Linked DNA regions of Homo sapiens. The protein of the gene in region 1 interacts with the protein of each later gene in a pairwise test. Each region holds a gene or a part of one and is shown in the gene's direction. Other genes may lie near its edges.

Region 1 (5,455 bases):
TTTGTTATAGCTTATGAAATTTTAAAAAGTCAAAGGACGTAACTACTTTTTAGAAAACCTATAAAATTCTAGAAAGATAAAAGTTCTGAGAGCCCTTGTTTTAAAGATATGTGCAAAACACTGTAAACTAAGTGGTGGCTATAAGACCTATGTCAACTTACTGATTTTGTCTTAGTTTCAAAGGTACACCTGGAAGGTTTTAATGATGAAGATGTAATCTCACGACAAGACCATGAACAAGAAACTGAAAAACTCGAGTTAGAAATTCAGCAGTGTAAAGAAATGATTAAAACTCAGCAACAGCTTTTACAGGTGAATATGAATTACCTTTTAAAGCTGTTCTCCATGAAAAGCCAGAATTGTGCTGAACCTTACCAGATTTGTATTCCTTTATTTCATAAGGCCCTGGTATTTGACAGATTTCTAGTCTGTGTTCCCTGCTAACAGATACATTGTGTACCACTCCTTAAATAGTCCATACTTTGCTAGTTGGGGTAGTAGGTTTCGGGAAATGAGAATTCTCATTTGACTTTTTGATTCTTAATAATTTCTATTCCTGCCCTGAAGTTTGACTGGCCTTCCCTTGCTTTCATTTCAACTCGTTGGAGTGTCGCAAGGTCCCTCAGGAACTTACTATGTTTTAAATTTTAATAGCAGCAGCTCGCTACTGCATATGATGATGATACCACTTCACTATTACGAGACTGTTATTTGTTGGAAGAAAAGGAACGTCTCAAAGAAGAATGGTCCCTTTTTAAAGAGCAGAAAAAGAATTTTGAGAGGGAGAGACGAAGCTTTACAGAAGCCGCTATTCGCCTGGGATTGGAGGTATTTTAAACAATTGTAGTGCTTTTGAAAATACTGGGGGTGGGTGGGCCTCAGTAGAATGCTTCTAAGGTCTCCTTTTTTTCTTGCTATTTACTTATTTTCTAAAATATTTACTGGTGATCTCACAAATAATTTGAAATGAGAGGGAGGCTGAGCATATAGAATGGGATCATTTCCCCTTACCAGATTTGAGAATTGAACTTAAGAAAAAAAAACGCTATAAGCATTTATTACTGCTTTCAGATTGGCTTTCTCCTGCTAAGTGTTTTACACAAGAAATCTCTTTTGGGTATCCATCATTCATCCACGGTCAGTAGGTGTGGTGTCAGAAGACAGTGCAACCAAGACTATATTTGCTGTTTAAAAAGGAAGTATAATAAAAAATTAAGTTCTCTTCTCCCCAGTCCATCATTGTTATATATACGCTCTACAGCTTGCTTTTTTTACTTAGCAATGTGTCATCTACATATTCCCCCTTCAAAAATTGTAGCAGTAATGTCTGAATAAGGTTAAAAAAAAAAAATCAACAAAACTCATTAAAAAAAGCTACAAAGTAAGAAAGTATCCTCCTTTCTCATCCTCAGTTTCATTCCTTAGAGGTAACTGCTGTTAAAAAGTATCTGTTGGAAATTCTTCTAGGAAGTACTATTTTAACTTTTAATGTATTTCAAGTTTTCTTGTTTATCAGTTCATTGATTCCCTGCTATGAAAGATAAGGAATTCTGTGTCCTTATTGTACCTCCTACCTACACCCTTCCTCATTCACATCTCATGTCTTCATAATATTGTTCCTCTTGTTCGTCTGCTTGCCTTTTTTTTGCTTTAAGGAAATAATAAAAAGCTTCCATTTCATGTTTGTTCAACTTCAGTCAGTATCAGTTCATCCCTGCAGTGAAAGCTGAGGACTTTCTTGTTGTTACTCTTGTTCTACCTCTCTTGCTGTACTACTTTGCAATTTTTGTGATATTATTTTTCATTGTTATCACATTCATAGTTTGTCCTCTAATACAATCCAGGTATAAGTACTTTGTCTAAACTTGAGACTTAAAAGTTGGAAAACCAGGAAAGAAAATTGATAATACTACAATTATGTAAATGTTATTCTATAACCAAATATGTTTGGACACAGAAAATATTCTGTATTATTAAGACTTTGCCACCCAGAGAGATATATCACTATCTAGTGAATTCTTTTTCTCTGTAGCTTCCTTTGTGATTTCCTGAATCAGATTTCAGCTGCCATGTTGCTCATATCTCATGTTACTGTCTTTCTTGGGTTTCTGTTCAATTCGCTATATTAGTAATTGAGTAATTACTAATTCTTGAGTAATTTTTTTTTTATAAATAGTGCATGAGCTGTAAACATTCTGAATTCTGGAATAGTCAAAAATATATTCATACTTGATTGGTTTGGCTGTGTATAGAATTTAGATTCCAGTTTTTTTTCCTTCAAAACTTTGAATTATTCCATTTCTCCTAGTGTTTAGTTTTACTGATGAGAAGCCTGATTGTAATATACCTGTGTTACTTTGTAGATAACTGTGTTTTGTTTTCTATCTCCCTCTGTGGAAGCTTTGGTATTTTCTTAAAGTTTGGAAATTTTACCAGGATACTTCTAGAGAGTTCCTTTCATCCTAAAGATTCTGTATTTCTTTAATTTAGGGAAATTTTCTTCTTTATTTTTTCCTTCTTTGACTTCTCTGTGTTCTGGAACTTTTGTTAGACACACATTTGGCCTTCTGAATATATATCTACAGGTTGACTTTTGTTCTCAATTCTGGGATATTCTCTTACCTTTATCTTAGAGATCACGAAACTGGCCTTTCAGGGTCAGTTTTATTATTTGCTTTAGCCACTGAGTCTTTGCTTCAGAATTTATCTTTAAATTTTTCTAATGTCCTTAATTTTTGCTTTTCTTTATATAGCATGATGGTATTTTACAGATGTTTATTAATCTGATAATATTTGTTACATTTTTAAAAAAGATTTCTTTCATCTGTTGAATTATCTCTTATCCATGGTCAGTTTTCTATTTATCTTGACCTTTTTTCTATATTAGTTTTCTCAATGTTTGGTGATGCGTGATTCTGTATCAATATTTATGAATGAAAGACTGTGTGTTGCTTGTTTTCAGTAGCTGACGTGGATTTCCTCAGTTCACAGTGTGAACGTCTGTTTCATCAGTAGCTATCTTCAGGGAACAACACTTGACCAGCATTGTCTCCTACCTGTTTCCAAGCCCTTATTCCCCACATTACTCCAAGAGAGTAATTACTCTTGCTACTTTGCATATTGCTCCCAGTTGCCAGGTGCCTTTCCCTGCAAGAGAATTTTTCTCCGTCTGGTCACTGGGACAGTGGGCATAGTGAGGGATGGGAGGGAGGCATGCAAGACCTGAGGGCTGATGGAGAATTTAGTTTAGGATTCATCAGCTATTCAGAAGGGGGAGGTTTGACATAATTTGCCTATGCCCTCTTGTGGTTTAGTGGTGGTGGCTACCAGTACTGGTAGATGGCTAGAGGATGAGAGAAATGCTTGATGAAGTCATAGGTCCTGTTTTTCAAGTGACTAATTTACAATATAGATTATTTTTCTTTTGTTTGTAACTTTATAATGTTTTGTATGTTCAAAAGTTATGCTAATATTCTGTTCCATTTTTTGCATTGTTTATTTGAACTTAAAATTGATATGAAGACAGTGATGGTTGGTTTATTAGGTGAAACAGATGAATTTCTATTTTTTAAACATAATTTTTTCGTAAGTGAAATTTTTCTTAGTTTTTTTGTTTTTGTTTTTTTTTGAGATGGAGTCTCACTCTGTTGCCCAGGCTAGAGTGCAGTGGCGTGATCTTGGCTCACTGCAGGCTCTGCCTCCTGGGTTCATGCCATTCTCCTGCCTCAGCCTCCTGAGTAGCTGGGACTACAGGCACCCGCCACCACACCCGGCTAATTTTTTTTGTTTTGTATTTTTAGTAGAGACGGGGTTTCACCATGTTAGCCAGGATGGTCTCGATCTCCTGACCTCGTGATCCACCCGCCTTGGCCTCCCGAAGTGCTGGGATTACAGGCGTGAGCCACCGTGCCCGGCCGTGTTTTGCTTTTTGAGATGGAGCCTTGCTTTGTTGCCCAGGCAGGAGTGCAGGGGTGCGATCTCAGCTCACTGCAACCCCTGCCTCCTGGGTTCATGTGATTCTCCTGCCTCAGCCTCCTGAGTAGCTGGGACTACAGGCGCACGCCACCATGCCCGGCTAAATTTTGTATTTTTAGTAGAGATGGGGTTTCACCATGTTGGCCAGACTGGTCTCAAACTCCTGACCTTGTGATCCGCCCACCTTGTCCTCCCAAAGTGCTGGGATTACAGGCATGAGCCACTGCGCCCGGCTTTTTTTTTTTTTTTTTTTTTTTTTTTGGAGATACGGTCTTGCCGTGTCACCTAGGCTAGAGTGCAGTGGTGCTATCTCGGCTCACTTCAGCGTCAACTTCCCAGCCTCTAGCCATCCTCCCTCCTCAGCCTCCAAAGTAGCTGAGACTGTAGTCCTGTGCCACCATGCCCAGCTGATGTTTGTATTTCGTGTAGAGACAGGGTTTTGCCGTGTTGCCTAGGCTGGTTTGGAACTCCTCAGTTCAAGTGCTCCACCAACCCTCAGCCTCCCAAAATACTGGGATTACAGACGAGTGCTGAAATTATTTTTAGTTTTTTAGGTTAACTCATTTGACATAAGAAGTACGAATAGATAGCCAGAGAGCAAACAAAGATAGCTAGAGCAATCATGTGAAATGGCAACTGTGTGGATGTTGAAATATTGATCATTATTTCTTTGGCTGTTTATGGTAGAGAAAGGCATTTGAAGAAGAAAGAGCCAGTTGGTTAAAGCAGCAGTTTCTAAATATGACTACCTTTGACCACCAGAACTCAGAAAATGTGAAACTTTTCAGTGCCTTCTCAGGAAGTGAGTACTTTATAAACTCTTTAATTTGAACATGCATATAAATAAAATTATTTACATATTACAAAATACTACATATTATTAATACAAAACTTTGGAAATCACCAATTAGAGCTCTCTAATTATAACTAAAAGTCAACTTTTTTTTGTTTGTTTTTGAGACGGAGTCTTGCTCTGTCGCCCAGGTTGGAGTGCAGTGACGTGACCTTGGCTGACTGCAACCTCTGCCTCCCAGCTTCACGCGATTATCTTGTCTCAGCCTCCTGAGTAGCTGGGATTACAGGCATGTGCCACCACGCCTGGCTAATTTTTGTATTTTTAGTAGAGACGGGTTTTTACCATATTGGCCAGGCTGTTCTTGAACTCCTGACCTCAGGTGATCCACCCATCTCAGCCTCCCAAAGTGCTGGGATTAGGCATGAGCCACTGCGCCTGGCCTAAAAATCAACTTTAATATTTTATTTACTGTAGTGAAAGTGAGGATGAGAGGGGGACTGTGCATGCCCAAAGTAACTTTTGTTGTGAGTTTGTAATAATGCGAAGTTTTTGAAAATTTACATTGAGAATTTCTTTTTTCAAGATGTAGTCTTGCTCTGTCACCCAGGCTGGAGTGCATCTCGGCTCTCTGCAGCCTCAGCGTCCTGGGCTCAGGCAATCCTCCTTGCCTCAGCCTCCTGAGTA
Region 2 (5,455 bases), on another chromosome or scaffold:
GATGATGCAGGATTTTTCTCGACCCCTTTGTCAGATTTGCAATGGGGGTGCCCTGTTTACTCAGCCTGCCACACTCAACCCCTTGCAGGAGGGAGCACGTGAGCAAGCGAGTGGGTTCAGGCTGGCTGCTTTGGGTGCCGGCAGGAGCAAGCTCCATGCACACCCTGTGGCGGTGCCCAGGTGGGAGTGCCTGTGATCCCCAGAATCCCAGAGGGCATGCTACAATGCCCTCTTAGCTTAGCTTTACCGTTTATGGACAGCAGTGTTATCAGCTCAGTGGGCCCCTTGTCTTGTCATGTGGGGTGTCTACACTCCACCAGCAAGGGCAAAGGGCTAGTGTGACAGCCTTTTTTGGGTACCTGCATCCAGTGGGTCCCAAGCCCTTGTGTGGTGTCCAAGAAGAACGAGGTCATGCTGACACTTGAAGGATGGTGGAGGCAGATAATTTTATTTAGCGATGGATGTCTCTCAGTGGAGAGAGGAGCTGGAAAGGGGGATGGGATGGTCAGGTAATCTTCCCTGAAGTCAGAGCGTCCCTCTGAAGTTAAGCTATCTTTCCTCTGAAGTCCAGCTGTCCCTCTGAAGTCAAGTTGCTTCTCTCCAGTCAAGCTGCTTCTCTCCTCTACTGACTGAGTCCAGGGTCTTTAGAGGCACAGAATGGGGGTGCAGGGCAAGCCATGGGTAGTTTTGGAAAAGGCAACATTCGATTGGTAAAAAGACATTATTCAGAAAGAACCAATCAGGAGAGAACAGGCAAACAGGGATAGAAGTTCTCACCTTGGGCAGCAGGTTTCAGGCTACTTTGACTTGAAGGTGCTGTTTCACTGGGGACCCGCCCCTGTCTGCCTAGAATTTCTCTGCCTCCTGCTTCCATCGCTGATGTTCAGTGTTTTGAAGACATTGTTTCATATGTTCTGTCTGTGTTTTGGTTGTTTCAGGCAGAAGCATGAATCTGGTCTCTGTTACTCCATCTTGGCTAGAAGTAGGAATCATGCCTTTTAATTTTGTCCAATTTTCTTACTTTAAAAATATTTAAAATTTTAAATAGAAAAATTCATCAGTCTTTACCTTAATGGGCTCTGTACTTGGTGTCATGCTTAGGAACATTTTTTTGTTTAAGAACTTATAAAAAAATTTACTTCTATTTTTCAAATATTTGAATTGTCTTATTCAGATATTTTATTAATATGGAACACTACATTATACACAATTTGGAAAATAGCTAAAATATGGGGAATGGGGGAGAACACCTGTAATTCCATCACCAAACACACTGTAAATTTATATATTGACATATTTTCTTCCATGTGTTTTCCTGTGCCTTTATTTTTTGTGTATTTGTAATGCTGGTGTCCATCATTTAGCATGTTCATCCATGTTTATCCAGTGCATCGCATCATTAACATTTTTTATGTTGCTACATAATCTTCACAGTTGCATTTTAATGACTGAGTTATATTTCATCAAATGATTATATTACAATTATATTACCTTTATACTGTTAAGCATGTTAGCTATTTCTTCTTAAAGTATATGAAGCAATTATCAGAGAGTACATTTTCAGAGAATCCTAACTTTGCCTACTTACACATGACCCCATGAGAGCAGAAGTGTGACTAAGGCCCCTGATGTGTCATTGCATCTGTCTCTAAGCCCATTCTAGTACATTCAATAAAATCCTATTTGTAGAAAAATGAGAAGAAAATAAAAACATCAATTCTTAATAGCTCAATCCATTTCTTATTACTCATATAGTTATAAAACAAACTTTAAAAAACAGCTTAGAATTTCTATATTTAGTATGCATTAACATGCTCTCTCAATTACTTTCTAATACTTATTTGTGCTTGCTTATTTTTAGGAAAGATACTATTCAAGTCCAGTACATCATAATGCAGAATTCTGTATCAGTACCACCAAAAGATGAAGGTAAGTTAAACTGCTGAGGAAAATGGTGATGAGTCTGTTATAGTTTTAATTTGATACATTGAATGTCATTGACCTCTAATCATAAGGTAACTTATTTCCTAGAATTAAAAATAAAAATTATAATTATATATGAAAACTCATTTCTTTTGGTAAATAATTTGAGTGTATATGGATTCCTGAGTTTTAAGGACCTGTCTCCTTTATAGGCTATAGCGCCTTGAGAGCCCAGCCATCTCATTCCACCCAAAACTCACAGAGCCCTGCTTATTCACTGGCAGTTAACTGGCACTAACAGATATCAGTAAAATTAAAAAGTGTTGGCTTTATTGAAGCAAAATAACACAAGTATTTTAGTGAGTAGAAGAATATATGCATATATATTCACACACACATCTGTAGACATACACTTAGAGGATATAGAATTTGTGTATACATTTCTTTGCCTGTTTCCCCTGATATCCATTTAAAAAGAAATAGAAAAACTATTTTACTTTTTGCAATGTATAAAAAATAAAATAATGATTTTTTAACAGGCACTTCTGGACCTTCCAGAAGAACCTGTACCTCCAGATGGAGGTAGAGTCCTTTCTTCATCAAGAGTAATTAAATTACCCTCACCATAAAGGGTACACTCTAACCCCGGGGAGAAATACCAGTCTTTCCCTGCCCCATCTAGTCTCTTCCACACAGAAGAGAAGTTCTGACATGTATGAGAAAAAAGACATATCTTTAATGAGGCAAAATTAGGTTGCCTTAGTGGAACATGTAGCTTTTAGTGAAAGGAGGGAATTTGTTATGAAGGACCCTTAAATAGAGCAAACACCCTTTGATCTCTCTACCAGTGAGAAAGGTAGTATCATAACTCTTGAGCACATGGAATCTGGATTTGAAACTCAGTCCTACCACTTAACTGTAAAACTTTAGGTGTATCACTTGACCTCAGCTTCCACATCTGTAAATCTATAAAATGAAGATAATAAGTTCCACTCTATAGGATATGTGGAGACTAAAGGAAATAGCATATGTAAATCACCTAGCATATTGTTGTTTGCATAGTAGGCACTTATATGATGATAAAACTACCATTCTCAATGGCTATTATTAATATCTGGGACATCCTCATCTTTGAGACTGGTCAGTGAGATGGCCATGAGGCCGCCTCTTGCCTGGGATGCCTAATGGCCTTGGAAGGCCAAACATGCTCCAAGGGGACCCATGGGGAGTAAGCAGGAATTAGACCGCTTGGTTTGATTCTTACCCAGGAGTTGATCCGAAGAGAGAGTGAGAGTCCTTGAGACTCACACAAAATCCAGCCGGGAACACTAGGGCAAGAAAGGAGATGGGCAAACCCCAACTAGAAATAAAGAGCATGTGTTTTTCTTGAGTGTTCTCTGGTATATATCCTCTGGAAGATTTGTGCAGCACTTGGTAGCTGATGAAGGGTTTGAAATTCAGTGTCCTAGCTGGTATTACCTTTTTTTATCCAAGCAAGCAAGGAGAAGCTTAGGAGAAAAAATAATGGAACAAGTATCAGGAAAGCTGGACTCCATTCCATACCTGCCTCCAACCAGCTGTGGAACCCCAGGCAAAGTTATTTTGCCCCTGAGCCTCAGTTTTCTCATTGAAAAATCGAGAATGACTAGGTGTTCCTTTCAGGCTCTAAAAAGGTGAGTCTATGTGAGTAACTAAGCAACAAGCTGCTTGGCTCTGGCTGATACAGAGGGAGAAAGCACTCACACCTCTTGGCTGCTTTGCTTCTCATCACAGTTTGTTTTGTTCTGATGCCTACCTCTCTGGGCTATCACATAAGCTTGGATACTTCCATTGACCGGAAAGTAAGACCCCTTGGCCCTACCCAGAGCTCAAGTAAACCTCCTTACCCAGTCTTTTCTGGGACTAAAGATGCTTAAGCCCAATCCTGGAATTTGACAGAGGATATATAATAGCTTAAAAAAACCTCAATCATGTGCCTCCATTGTGATAATCATTCTACCTACAACTTTACATCCTTTATTTAATCTTCACAATAAGTTAGACGTAAACCTTATTTTACAACTTCAAGATTAGGTACTTTTTGCCAAGACCACCAACCAGTAAGTGACTGATCCAAGATTTGAACTCAGATCTATCATAAAATTTATAAAGAATATTTATATAAATTATAGAGAATATATATTTATAAAGAATATTTAATTTATAAAGATATTTCTATAAGAATTTACAATTTATAAAGAATATTTCTAATAATTTTTGATCATCTCCTTTTTCTCTCATCAAACATACTATGCTTAATTACACATATGAATGCTTAAAGCCATTTTAAACCAAAGTGAGCAGAAATTATAACTTAAATTATGGAAAATTACATCAATAAGGAAAAATAATATATGTGAATACATGTAAGTCCTATGAATTGCCCAGTTATTCATTAATTTACTCATTCATTCATTCAAATGCTTTCTGTATGTCTTAGATTAATATTAATATTTTTTAACAAAAGCATCAGATGTATTAATTATGATTCTGTTTATGATCAAATATAATTTATGGCTAGGTACAGCAGCTCCCACCTGTAATCCCAGCACTTTGGGAGGCTGAGGTGGGAGGATAACTTGAGGCCAGGAGTTAGAGACCAGCCTGGGCAACATAGCAAGACTCCATCTCTACAAAAAAATTTCAAAATTAGCTAGGCGTGATGGCTCATGCCTATAGTCCCAGCTACTTGGAAGGCTGAGCTAGGAGGATTGCTTGAGCATAGGAGTTTGAGGCTGCAGTGAGCTATGATCATGCCATGGCATTCCAGCCTGGACAACAGAACAAGACCTTGTCTCTAAATATATATATATATATATATATATATATATATATATATATATATATATACACACACACACCCCCACACACCCACACGTAATATATTACATATATATTTGTTTAATTGCATGTACATAATTTGTGTGACATGAGAAGTTTGCTGGGCACATGCTATTTATTAATTAAATGCAGATTGATTTATTTAACAAACCATTGATGGCTAGCTATAAATTATGATACCTTTGAATTTCCAACTTATAAACACATACACACGTATTATATGCATTTCTGTATAAAATTCAGATAAGACATCACCAACAGAGTTGTGAGGCTTAAATTAAGGAAAATATGCTGTACTAACATACTGTCCCCAAACAAAGTTCATATGGTAGAAGCAGGTTTAATGATCACCAAGGTAATTCATACGAGGAACTATCAGATGCTATGAAGAATCCAAAGGTAAATCATACAGAGCCTGAGCTTTTAGGCTCTAAAATCCTGTTGGAACAGCATATGTGCATGTCCTTAATTAGAATAAAGCATGACTAATGCTGTACTAGAAGTGAGTATGACATACTTTGAAAATCAGAATGAAAGGACAGTTGGCTAAGCCAGAGATTTTGAGGCTGGTCAGGAAACAAAATGGAGGAGATGACATTTGTTCAGGATATTAACATATATGTACAAGTCAAGCAAGTGGAATTTAAGCCAG
Region 3 (5,455 bases), on another chromosome or scaffold:
GAGGTTTTATTTACCATTGGTGTTCCTGAGTAATTATTTTAGTGTCAGTACTGGGATATTTAGAATGGAAGGAGCAGTGTGTTTAACTGCAACCTGTGTTAGCATTTCTGTCTTATTAGTTGAAAACTCATCCACTAGAGGCAGAACAAAGCATCAGGGATAAAAGGAAAAGTAGAATAGGTTGGAGTTATTGAGGCCCTTATTGTACTTCGTCTCTCCCCCCTTGAAATTTTCAGCTACTTTACTTTGTTCATTTAATCTGTTTTATTCTAAATATTATATATTCTAAATTTGTTTTAACTTCTTTCTCTTTTTCTTTTCCTGCACTAAATCCTATAACAGCTGGTATTTGTATTGTTTTGATTTTTTTTTTCCTTTTTACTTAGCAAAATGTGTTCAGAATGAGCCTCTGTGGAGAGTCAGGCGAGTCATGTCCCATGGTAGTTTAGCCCATTTTAATGGACTAAATCCAGGTCACTGGTCTGTCAAGATTATGTAACTAATGGCATATCCAAGACTAAGCACCTGTCTCTGCACTTCTGCTCCTACTTTTGCCCACTCCAACTCACAATTCTTTGCCTAGTGGTACTTCATGAATACTGTAGACTATGGAACACTCCTGGTTTTTTTTTTTGAGACAGAGTCTCACTCTCTCGCCCAGGCTGGAGTGCAATGGCACGATCTAGGCTCACTGTAACCTCTGCCTCCCAGGTTCAAGTGATTCTTCTGCCTCAGCCTCCTGAGTAGCTGGGATTACAGGTACCCACTATCATGCCCGGCTAATTCTTGTACTTTTGTAGAGATGGGGTTTCACCATGTTGGCCAGGCTGGTCTCAAACTCCTGATCTCAGGTGATCTGCCCACCTTGGCCTCCCAAAGTGCTGGGATTACAGGCGTGAGCCACTGCGCCCGGCCAGGAACACTGCTGTTTATTGTAGCACACGTTAGATGGGTAAACATTACCCAGAAGGCTAGAATGTTGAGTGTAACTATGAGAGTGCCTTGGCAAATGATTGGAGTGCCTTGGCAAATGATTTCTGGAATAGTGAGCTCTTAATTACAGATAGCTTCTTTGGCATCCATTCTACTTCAGATAACTGGAAACAAGCTACCTCGTCAGAAATTAAGATATTAAAAGCAAGTTGCAAAACTATAGCATGATTCTGTGTGTACAGTTACATGTACAGGTTGAGTATCCCTTATCTGAAATGCTTGCGTTGTATTTACCAGTTCAGCATCCCAAATCCAAAGATCCAAAATTCGAAATGCTCCAATGAGCATTTCCTTTGAGCATTGTTGTCACTCAAAATATTTCTCATTTTTGGATTTGGGGTGCTCAACCTGTATAATACCATTGGATATACATTTGATCCTTGAACAATGTGGGAGTTAGGGGACTCTGACCGCCCCCCGCCCCTCCCCACAGTGGAAAATTTGCATATAACTTTTCACTCCCCCAAAACTTACTATTAAGTGCCTGCTGTTGACTCTAAGCCTTACCAATAACATAAACAGTTGATTAACACATACTTTGTATGTTATATGTATTATATACCATATTCTTATAATAAAGTAAGCTAGAGAAAAGAATGTTACTAAGAAAATCCCGAGGAGGAGAAAATATATTTGCCCTTCATTAAATGGAAGTGGTTCATCATAAAGGTCTTCATTCTCCTTGTCTTAATGTTGAGTAGGCCGAGGAGGAAGAGGATGATTTGGTCTTGCTCTCTTGGGTGGCAGAGGTGGAAGAGGTGGAGGAGGTAGAAGGGAAGGCAAGAGGGTAGACGGCACTTGGTGTAACTTTGCAGAAATACATTATAATTTCTGTCTGACATTTTTGCTTTTTCATTTCTCTAAAAATGTTTCTATACAGTACCAATTCTTCCACCACTTGCTTTAGTTTAAATGCATTAGTTTTCAGTATAGAAGGGTCCATAAAAGAAGTCAAAAGCAGTCTTGAATAATTGGCCCTTCTGCCAGATTGTCTAGTGTCAATTTGTTTTCTGGCACTGCTTCACCTCAGTTTTCTTCCTCATCACCTTGCACTGGTTTGGAAGGACTCATCCCCATCAAATTGGCTTTTGTTAACTACTCTGGTGTGTCTGTTAGCTCTTGAATTTCTTCAAGATATCTTGAGACCCTTCACCCCGACCCCCCTGCACTTTTCCCCCCCCCCCATATTTACAATCTCTTTCACGATTTCCTTGATTGGCTCTGTCTTAAGTCCAATGATGCCATGCACAATATCTGGACACATTTTTTTCTCCAGCAGGACTTTGTTTTGGGCTTGATGATTTTCATGGCTTTTTCTATAACAACAATAGCATCTTCAATGGTATAATCTTTACACACTTTCTTGATACTCTCTGTATTAGGGTTCTCTCCCATAGCATTGACAATCCTTTCCGTAGAGTACCACGTGTAATGAGCTTTAGAGGTTCTTACGACCCCCTGGTCTAGAGGCTGAATTAGAAACATTGTGTTTGGGGGCAAGTAGACCACTTTGACACCTTCAGTGTTGAACTCATGGGGTTCTGGGTGGCCAGGGGCATTGTCCAATATTAAAATAATTTTAAAATCCAGTTCCTTATTGGCAAGGTACTTCCTGACTTCAGGGACAAAGCATCAGTGGAACCAATTCAGAAAAAAGGATTTCCATTGTCCAGGCCTTCTAGTTGTACAACCAAAAGACAGGCAGCTGGTGCTGATCTTTTCCCTTCAAGGATTGGGGGTGGGGGTTAGCAGCTTTATAGATAAGGGCAGTTCTGATCATAAACCCCACTACGTTTTCATGAAACAGTAGAGTTAGCCTGTCTCTTTTTGTTTTCAATCCTGCTGCTTGCTTCTCTTCCTACTAAATGTCCTTTGTGGTGTTTTTCTAGAATAGGATACTTTCATCTGCATTAAAAACCTGTTCAGGCCAGGCGCAGTGGCTCACGCCTGGAGTCCTAGCACTTTGGGAGGCCAAGGCGGGTGGATCACGAGGTCGGGACTTCGAGGGCAGCCTGGCCAACATGGTGAAACCCTGTCTCTGCTAAAAATACAAAAAGTAGCTGGGCGTCCTATTCACGCAGATATCCTTTCTCCTCAGTGATTTTCTTTTTTGTTTTTTGTTTTTTTTTTTGAGATGGAGTCTTGCTCTGTCGCCCAGGCTGGAGTGCAGTGGCATGAACTCGGCTCACTGCAACCTCCGCCTCCCGGGTTGAAGCAATTCTCCTGCCTCAGCCTCCAGAGTAGTTGGGATTACAGACACGCACCACCGCGCCCGGCCATCATGACTTTTCTCTGCTTCTTGAGAGCACTTCCAGCATCGCTAGTCGCACTTTGTGTGAGTCTCATGATGTTATTCAAGGTTTACCATTTTGTAGTAAACACAGTGAAAAATACGCCAGAGATCACTTCTTACTGCCATACACAATTTACTGAAGAGATGAACTGCTCATGCAGAGATGAGTAGTGTCACAAGGTGTTTTAAGTGAATACTCATAGTATTTGAGCTCACTGCAATAGCAGCAGGAGGTGGCTATGAAATTATTGCAGTAGTGCAGTGTGTACTACAGTTAATTTTTTTCTTCCTTCTGTACCTCATTGGATGCGTTTTTTTCCTTGTTTTGTACTACAGTTAATTTCATGCAGTTATGATTTAATACTGCATATTTATGTTTGTTTACATTTTTCTCAACTGTGAATGTGCCATATATGGTCTATAAATATAAGTTTTGATAAATTTTAACTTTAAAAAAAGTTGTCAATGATTATGTTGTAGCACAACTTTTATAGTAATATTCAAGGAAAAATGTTTGAGACCGAACTTCTCTGTCTTAGAATGGAATGAAGTCAGAGATCATTTTGTTTCAAATCGTTTTTTTTTTTTTTTTTTTTTTTTTTTGAGACAGAGTCTCGCTCTGTCGCCCAGGCTAGGGTGCAGTGGTGCAATTTCGGCTCACTGCAACCTCTGCTTCCCAGTTTCAAGCAATTCTCCTGCCTCAGCTTCCTGAGTAGCTGGGATTACAGGCGTGCACCACCACACCTGGCTAATTTTTTTATTTTTAGTAGAGATGGGGTTTCGCCATGTTGGCCAGGCTGGTCTCGATCTCCTGACCTCAAGTAATCCGTCCACCTCGGCCTCCGAAAGTGCTAGGATTACAGGCATGAGCCACCGCTCCCTGGCCTGTTTCAAATGCTTTAAGCAAGGAAACAATAAAACACTTAACTTATATTGTAACAGTATCTGTATATGTGCTGCTCAAGCCAGCACAATATTGCTTAACAGTATCTGCATTAACTTTTTTTTTTTTTTTTTTTGAGACGGTGTTTTGCTCTTGTTTCCCAGGCTGGAGTGCAGTGGCGCGATCTTGACTCACTGCAACCTCCACCTCCCGGGTTCAAGCAATTCTCCTCCCTCAGCCTCCCGAGTAGCTGGGATTACGGGGGGCTGCCACCACGCCCGGCTAATTTTTGTATTTTTAGTAGAGATGGGGTTCACCATGTTGGCCAGGCTGGTCTCGAACTCCTGACCTCAGGTGATCCGCCCGCCTTGGCCTCCCAAAGTGCTGGGATTCCAGGCATGAGCCACCACGCCCAGCTCTGCATTAACGTTTTATAATAGATTTATATTTATGGTAGCAAATGATAAAATAGACTAGTATGTACATATATTTTATGCATTCATGACATACCTTTTTCTTAATTTTTTTCAGTGTTTCTAGGCCATGCCACTTACCTATTTTTTTTTTCAAATTGTTGCAAATATCCCCTAAATGTTCCAGTGTGTTTACTGAAAAAAAATCTGTATTTAAATAGACCAAGGTGGTTCAAACCTGTGTTGTTCAAGGGTCAGCTGTATTGTATGTATATGTATTGCATATGTCCGATTGTACACGTGGGGAAAATGCTGTACCCAGAACTGTTAGCAATCACTTCTGTGGAGTATATGAGCTTGGTTTCGAGGTGATGGGGAGTTGAGTGAGTCAGTCAACAGGTGTTTGTGAGTGTCAGCTGTGTCTATGCCCTGTCTAATCTATGGCATACCTCTGCAAGTAGTCAGGCCATATCCTCTGTGCCAGGTTCTCTGGCGCTTTAAGTACATTAGATCATTTAATTATCTGAACAATTAGATACTATTTTATATGATTGAGAACTTATTCTACATTTGTTGCCCATTTTAATTCCAGCTGCTGAAATAATAAAGTTTACTTACTTAAGAAAAGTAAATTATTGTAATTATCTAAGACTGGATGAGCCTTCAGTTAGAACTGTACTCAACACATGTGACAAACAGACTCTTTTTTCTTTAAGCCTGACATCTGTAACATTTCTTTAAGATTATTTCAGTCTTCCATTTCTCTTCCACTTTCACTGATTTTTTTCCCAAATTTTGAATGGGAGAGGATGTAAATGTCTATTCTATTAAAAGTTGTTTTTTCATGTTTTTATTTGGGAAATGTTCTAATCT
Region 4 (5,455 bases), about 66 Mb from region 1:
TTGGGATACGGGTCCCATTTTTGGTCCATTCAGGTCCCCACCCCACACAATATATTATGGGAGAGTCCTTTTTCTTGAACTGTAGGAGTTCCAGGAAGCGCTCGCCCCTGGCCGAGGATATGTCCTTGCAAAACACGAGCCCTCCTAGTGAAGAGGGGATGTCACCCAAAGCCTACCACCGGTGTGTACATTTGCTTTTTCCCATTGTCCCTTCCAGTTGGCCACTCTCGGTCCTGTTAAATTCACCTTGCAAATTAGTCATCATATTTGAGTTTCCATTGTTTGATGAAAACAAAGTGTTAATGGGGATTACTGAAGAAGAAAGAGAAAGCCCCTGTCCTGGAAGAGCTTAGACTTAGTTGGGAAAACTATACTAACATTGAAATACTTAACACTTGGCAAACAGAATATCAACAATGTAATTTAACCTAATATGAACCAAGCTCTTACACGCTAAGAGAATGTGAAACAAAAGTTTAATCAGAGTGGGATAGGTTATAATGAGGAAAACTTCTTGGAGGAGGTGAGTTTTAGGCAGGATTTGGAACAGGGGTTGTGGAAAAGTTGAGAGAAATCATTATAAATGTGAGCAGTAGCATTTGCAAAGACCTTGAGATGGGAACATTTATAAGAACATGGGAATGAAATTTGTTTGACTGGATTAGGAGAATGTTGAAGTTGGGTGAGATGGAGAGTCTAGTAGACCCTGCTTCTGGCAGGTGGCTATTTGCAAGGTTGTGTCATATTCCCCTGGGAATAGCCAGAAAATGCTGGTAGGGGCTAGGATAATTCTTCCCTTCTCCCCACGGGGAGGGATACAGCTTTTCTTTCATCTTGGGTTCCCTTAGGAGGTGTTTGGTGATGACTCTGAGATCTCTAAAGAATCATCAGGAGTAAAGAAGCGACGAATACCCCGTTTTGAGGAGGTGGAAGAAGAGCCAGAGGTGATCCCTGGGCCTCCATCAGAGAGCCCTGGCATGCTGACTAAGCTCCAGGTTAGTGATTAGGGACTGGAAGCAAAGTGGTTTTGTGAGTTGAAGAAGCAAAAGGTGCATGGGTCTGTATTTATTGTGGAATTTTTTTTTTTTTTTTTTTTTTGAGGTGGAGTTTTGCTCTTGTCACCCAGGCTGGAATACAGTGGCGCGATCTCAGCTCACTGCAACCTCCGCCTCCCGGGTTCAAGCAAATCTCCTGTCTCAGCCTACTGAGTAGCTGGGATTAGAGGCACCCACCACCAAGCCTGGCTAATTTTTGTATTTTTAGTAGAGATGGGGTTTCACCATGTTGGCCAGGCTGGTCTTGAACTCCTGATGTCAGGTGATGCACTCACCTTGGCCTCTCAGAGTGCTAGAATTACAGGAGCGAGCCACTGCGCCCGGCTAATTTTTTGTATTTCTTTTAGTAGAGACAGGGTTTCACCATGTTGGGCAGGCTGGTCTTCAACTTCTGACCTCAGGTCATCTGCCCACCTTCGCCTCCCAGAGTGCTGGGATTATAGGCGTGAGCCAGCGTGCCTCGCCTTATTGTGATCTTGATTTGAATTAGTGTTTAGCATTTGGGGTAAACTTTTTTTTTTGAGATAGAGTTTCACTCTGTTGCCCATGCTGGAGTGTAGTGGCGTGATCTCAGCTCACGGCAACCTCCACCTCCCAGGTTCAAGCGATTCTCCTGCCTAAGCCTCCGGAGTAGCTGGGACTACATGCGAACACCACTACGCCTGGCTAATTTTTGTATTTTTAGTACAGATGGTATTTTGTCATGTTGGCCAGGCTGCTCTGGAACTCCTGGCCTCAAGTGATCTGCCACCTCAGCCGCCCAAATGGCTGGGATTACAGGTGTGAGCCACCATGCCAGGCCAGCATTTGGGAAAATTTTATTTCCTGCTTTATGTTTTAGCGTTCTTTGATTTGACCAGGAGTATTCTAGGTAAGGGTATTGAAATTGCCATTTACTGTGGCAAGCAAAGTGTGTTATGTACATTATTTGCCTAATTACCTATGTCGTTGAGTCATTGAGAAAATTAAATGAAATGATCAGAACTCATCTTAATGACAGAGGAGACTCTCCAAACATAATGCAAAGAAGATATAATCCACTGATAAATAATTTTAAGTTGACTTTATTTTTTTTTAACAGGAAGTATTTGTGTTTTTTCAATTGGCATTGTTAAATAATACCACATAAGTGTTTCTTTTACCATTTAATATTTGAGGGGGGTAATAGAACATATACAGAAATATGGGTGGGTGGATTTGCATATATGTGATATTTACAGAAGGAAAGAAATGGATTTTTTTTGTGTGTGTGTGTGAGATGTTCTCTCTGTCACTCAGGCTGGAGCGCAGTGGTGCGATCTCGGTTCACTGCAGCCTCTGCCTCCCAGGTTCAAGTGATTCTCCTGCCTCAGCCTCCTAAGTAGCTGGGATTATAGGCATGTGCCACCACGCACGGCTAATTTTTGTATTTTTAGTAGAGACAGGGTTTCACCATGTTGACCAGGCTGGTCTGGAACTCCTGACCTCAAGTGATCTGCCTACCTTGGCCTCCCAAATTGCTGGGATTATAGGCGTGAGCCACCGTACCTAGCCTGTTTTTGTTTTTCAGGCAAGGTCTCACTTTTTTGTCCAGGCTGGAGTTCAGTGGCGAGATCTTGGCTTACTGCAACCTCTGCCTCCCGGGCTTGAGTGATCCTCCCACCTTGGCTTCCCAAGTAGCTGGGACTACAGGTCACCATGCCTGGCTGATTTTTGTATTTTTTTTAAAGATTGAGTTCCACCATGTTGCCCAGGCTGGTCTTGAACTCCTGGGCTGAAATGATCCTCCTGCCTCAGCCTCCCAAAGTGCTGGACTTACAGGCGTGAGCTACCACGCCCAGCCAATTATTTTCTTTTTTGGGGGGTGGGGGATGGAGTCTTGCTCTGTCACTTAGGCTGGAGTACGGTGGCGCGTTCTCGGCTCACTGCAACCTCTGCCTCCCGGGTTCACGCCATTCTCCTGCCTCAGCCTCCTGAGTAGCTGGGACTACAGGTATGTACCACCATGCCCGACTAATTTTTTGTATTTTTAGTAGAGATGGGGTTTCACCATGTTAGCCAGGATGGTCTTGATCTCCTGACCTCGTGATCCACCCGCCTCGGCCTCCCAAAGTGCTGGGATTACAGGCATGAGCCACCGTGCCAGGCCCAATGATGTTTTTTATGGAGAATGGGGATGGACGTATTCACAACATATCCTTTTGTTATGTTTCTTTCTTTTTTTTTTTTGAGACGGAGTCTCACTCTGTCGCCCAGAGTGGAGTGTAATGGCGCTATCTCGGCTCACTGCAACCTCCGCCTCCCGGGTTCAAGCTATTCTTCTGCCTCAGTCCCTTGAGTAGCTGGGATTACAGGCACGCGCCACCACGCCTAGCTAATTTTTTTGTATGTTTAGTAGAGACGGGGTTTCACCATGTTGGTCAGGCTGGTCTCGAACTCCTGACCTCGTGATCCGCCCGGCTCGGCCTCCCAAAGTGCTGGGATTACAGACGTGAGCTGCCAGGCCCAGCCTGTAATTTTTCATTTTATTTTATTTTATTTTTTGAGACGGAGTCTCGCTCTTGCACTGTTGCCTAGGCTGGAGTGCAATGCCGTGATCTCAGCTCACTGCAACGTCCGCCTCCTGGGTTCCAGCAGTTCTCCTGCCTCAGCCTCCTGAGTAGCTGAGATTACAGAACGTGCATCACCATGTCCAGCTAATTTTTGTATTTTTAGTAGAGATGGGGTTTCACCCTGTTAGCCAGGATGGTCTCGATCTCCTGACCTCGTGATCCACCTGCCTCAGCCTCCCAAAGTATTGGGATTACAGGCGTGAGCCACCACGCCCAGCCCTGTAATTTTTAATTTTTTTATTTTCTTTCTTTCTTTACTTATTTAGAGATGGAGTCTCCCCCTGTTGTCCAGGCTGGAGTGCAGTGGCATGATCTTGGCTCACTGTAACCTCCACCTTCTGGATTCAAGCGCTTCTCCTGCCTCAGCCTCCTGAGTAGCTGGCATTACAGGCGCCCACCACCACACCCGGCTAATTTTTGTATTTTTACTAGAGACGGTGTTTCACCATGTTAGCCAGGCTGGTCTTCAGCTCCTGACCTCAAGTGATTCGCCCACCTCAGCCTCTCAAAGTGCTGGGATTACAGGCGTGAGCCACCATGCCTGACCCTTCCGTAATTTTTGAATTTTGAATATATCACCTATTCAAGAAAAAATGTTAAAGACAAATGTTTAAAAATATCTTGAAGCAGTTTAAGAACAGGTCTGTTTTGCAAAATGTAAGAGGAGTTGTTTGGCCATACCCTCAAAGCTTATCATTCTGAACTTCTTTAGGACAGAAGGGGTTTATAGAGACTAGGGAGCAGGTCTTTGCACCATCGTCTCTTGTTTCCCAAACTAGTAGTTCAAGTACTAATATCATGATTTTTTAAAAAAAATTAAGTATAGGCTGGGTGCGGTGGCTCACACCTGTAATCCCAGCACTTTGAGAGGCCGAGGTGGGCGGATCACGAGGTCAGGAGATCGAGACCATCCTGGCTAACAGGGTGAAACCCCATCTCTACTAAAAATACAAAAAATTAGCCGGGCGTGGTGGTGGGCGCCTATAGTCCCAGCTACTCGGGATGCTGAGGCAGGAGAATGGCATGAACCCGGGAGGCAGAGCTTGCAGTGAGCCAAGATCGCACCACTGCACTCCAGCCTGAGTGACAGAGCGAGACTCCATCTCAAAAAAAAAAAAGAAAATTAAGTATAATATTTTGTGTAGGTTCTGTTAGGTTTGCATGCATTATTTAAGTGGTTAACACTAGACCTGTAAGGTAGGTACTGTTTTCTTCCCCCTTCTAGACACTTAGGAGGTTTAGAGACTAAGTTCCTTATCCAAGATAACAAAGGCATTAAGTGGCAGAGTTAAGATTCAAACTCAGGTTTCTCTGACTCCAGAGTCTCAATCATCACACTATATTACTACCTAATATGCTAATCTTGCTTTAGGAACATGGGTTGAAAAATTCCAGTGCTCACTTATCTTGACTAAATTTTTTGCACTGTGGTGCAGGCAGAATGTGGTATAGTCATTCAAAACATTTTAAGTGTCTAGACCTGAGAGCCTTGTGGGTTTAAAAACCTGAATGGGAGAAGTAAGAAGGAGAAATTAACAGTTTTTCAATTTTTTTCCTGGAGAGCAGATCAAACAGATGATGGAGGCAGCAACACGACAAATCGAGGAGAGGAAAAAACAGCTGAGCTTCATTAGCCCCCCTACACCTCAGGTATTGTGTCTAGATTACTCTGAACAGAATAATCTTTGGCACAGAATTTCTTGCCATCCACTCAAAATGAGAGACTAGAAGAGGTGACTACATGTTTCACTTCATAATCATCTGCTACAGTCTACCATGATGTGTGTGTATATCTGTGTGTATGTATGT

What was found. Proteins that work in one complex are often made in the same cells at the same time.
Region 2: the proteins of SSX2IP (region 1) and ZNF438 interact in binary tests that used the Homo sapiens proteins (3 or more experiments, as listed by UniProt).
Region 3: the proteins of SSX2IP (region 1) and ZRSR2 interact in binary tests that used the Homo sapiens proteins (3 or more experiments, as listed by UniProt).
Region 4: the proteins of SSX2IP (region 1) and PRPF3 interact in binary tests that used the Homo sapiens proteins (3 or more experiments, as listed by UniProt).

What each region holds. Positions count from the first base shown.
Region 1 is NC_000001.11:84,651,205-84,656,659, reverse strand, and holds part of SSX2IP (afadin- and alpha-actinin-binding protein), read left to right. Parts: intron 1-175; coding exon 176-312; intron 313-654; coding exon 655-828; intron 829-1,071; coding exon of another isoform or gene 1,072-1,195; intron 1,196-4,662; coding exon 4,663-4,777; intron 4,778-5,455. UniProt on the Homo sapiens protein: Belongs to an adhesion system, which plays a role in the organization of homotypic, interneuronal and heterotypic cell-cell adherens junctions (AJs).
Region 2 is NC_000010.11:30,873,472-30,878,926, reverse strand, and holds part of ZNF438 (zinc finger protein 438), read left to right. Parts: intron 1-1,861; coding exon of another isoform or gene 1,862-1,892; coding exon 1,893-1,929; intron 1,930-3,417; exon of another isoform or gene 3,418-3,596; intron 3,597-5,455. UniProt on the Homo sapiens protein: Isoform 1 acts as a transcriptional repressor.
Region 3 is NC_000023.11:15,792,923-15,798,377, forward strand, and holds part of ZRSR2 (U2 small nuclear ribonucleoprotein auxiliary factor 35 kDa subunit-related protein 2), read left to right. Parts: exon of another isoform or gene 1-3,127; coding exon of another isoform or gene 3,128-3,328; intron 3,329-5,455. UniProt on the Homo sapiens protein: Pre-mRNA-binding protein required for splicing of both U2- and U12-type introns. Selectively interacts with the 3'-splice site of U2- and U12-type pre-mRNAs and promotes different steps in U2 and U12 intron splicing.
Region 4 is NC_000001.11:150,327,472-150,332,926, forward strand, and holds part of PRPF3 (U4/U6 small nuclear ribonucleoprotein Prp3), read left to right. Parts: intron 1-85; exon of another isoform or gene 86-181; intron 182-848; coding exon 849-995; intron 996-2,980; exon of another isoform or gene 2,981-3,027; intron 3,028-5,212; coding exon 5,213-5,296; intron 5,297-5,455. UniProt on the Homo sapiens protein: Plays a role in pre-mRNA splicing as component of the U4/U6-U5 tri-snRNP complex that is involved in spliceosome assembly, and as component of the precatalytic spliceosome (spliceosome B complex).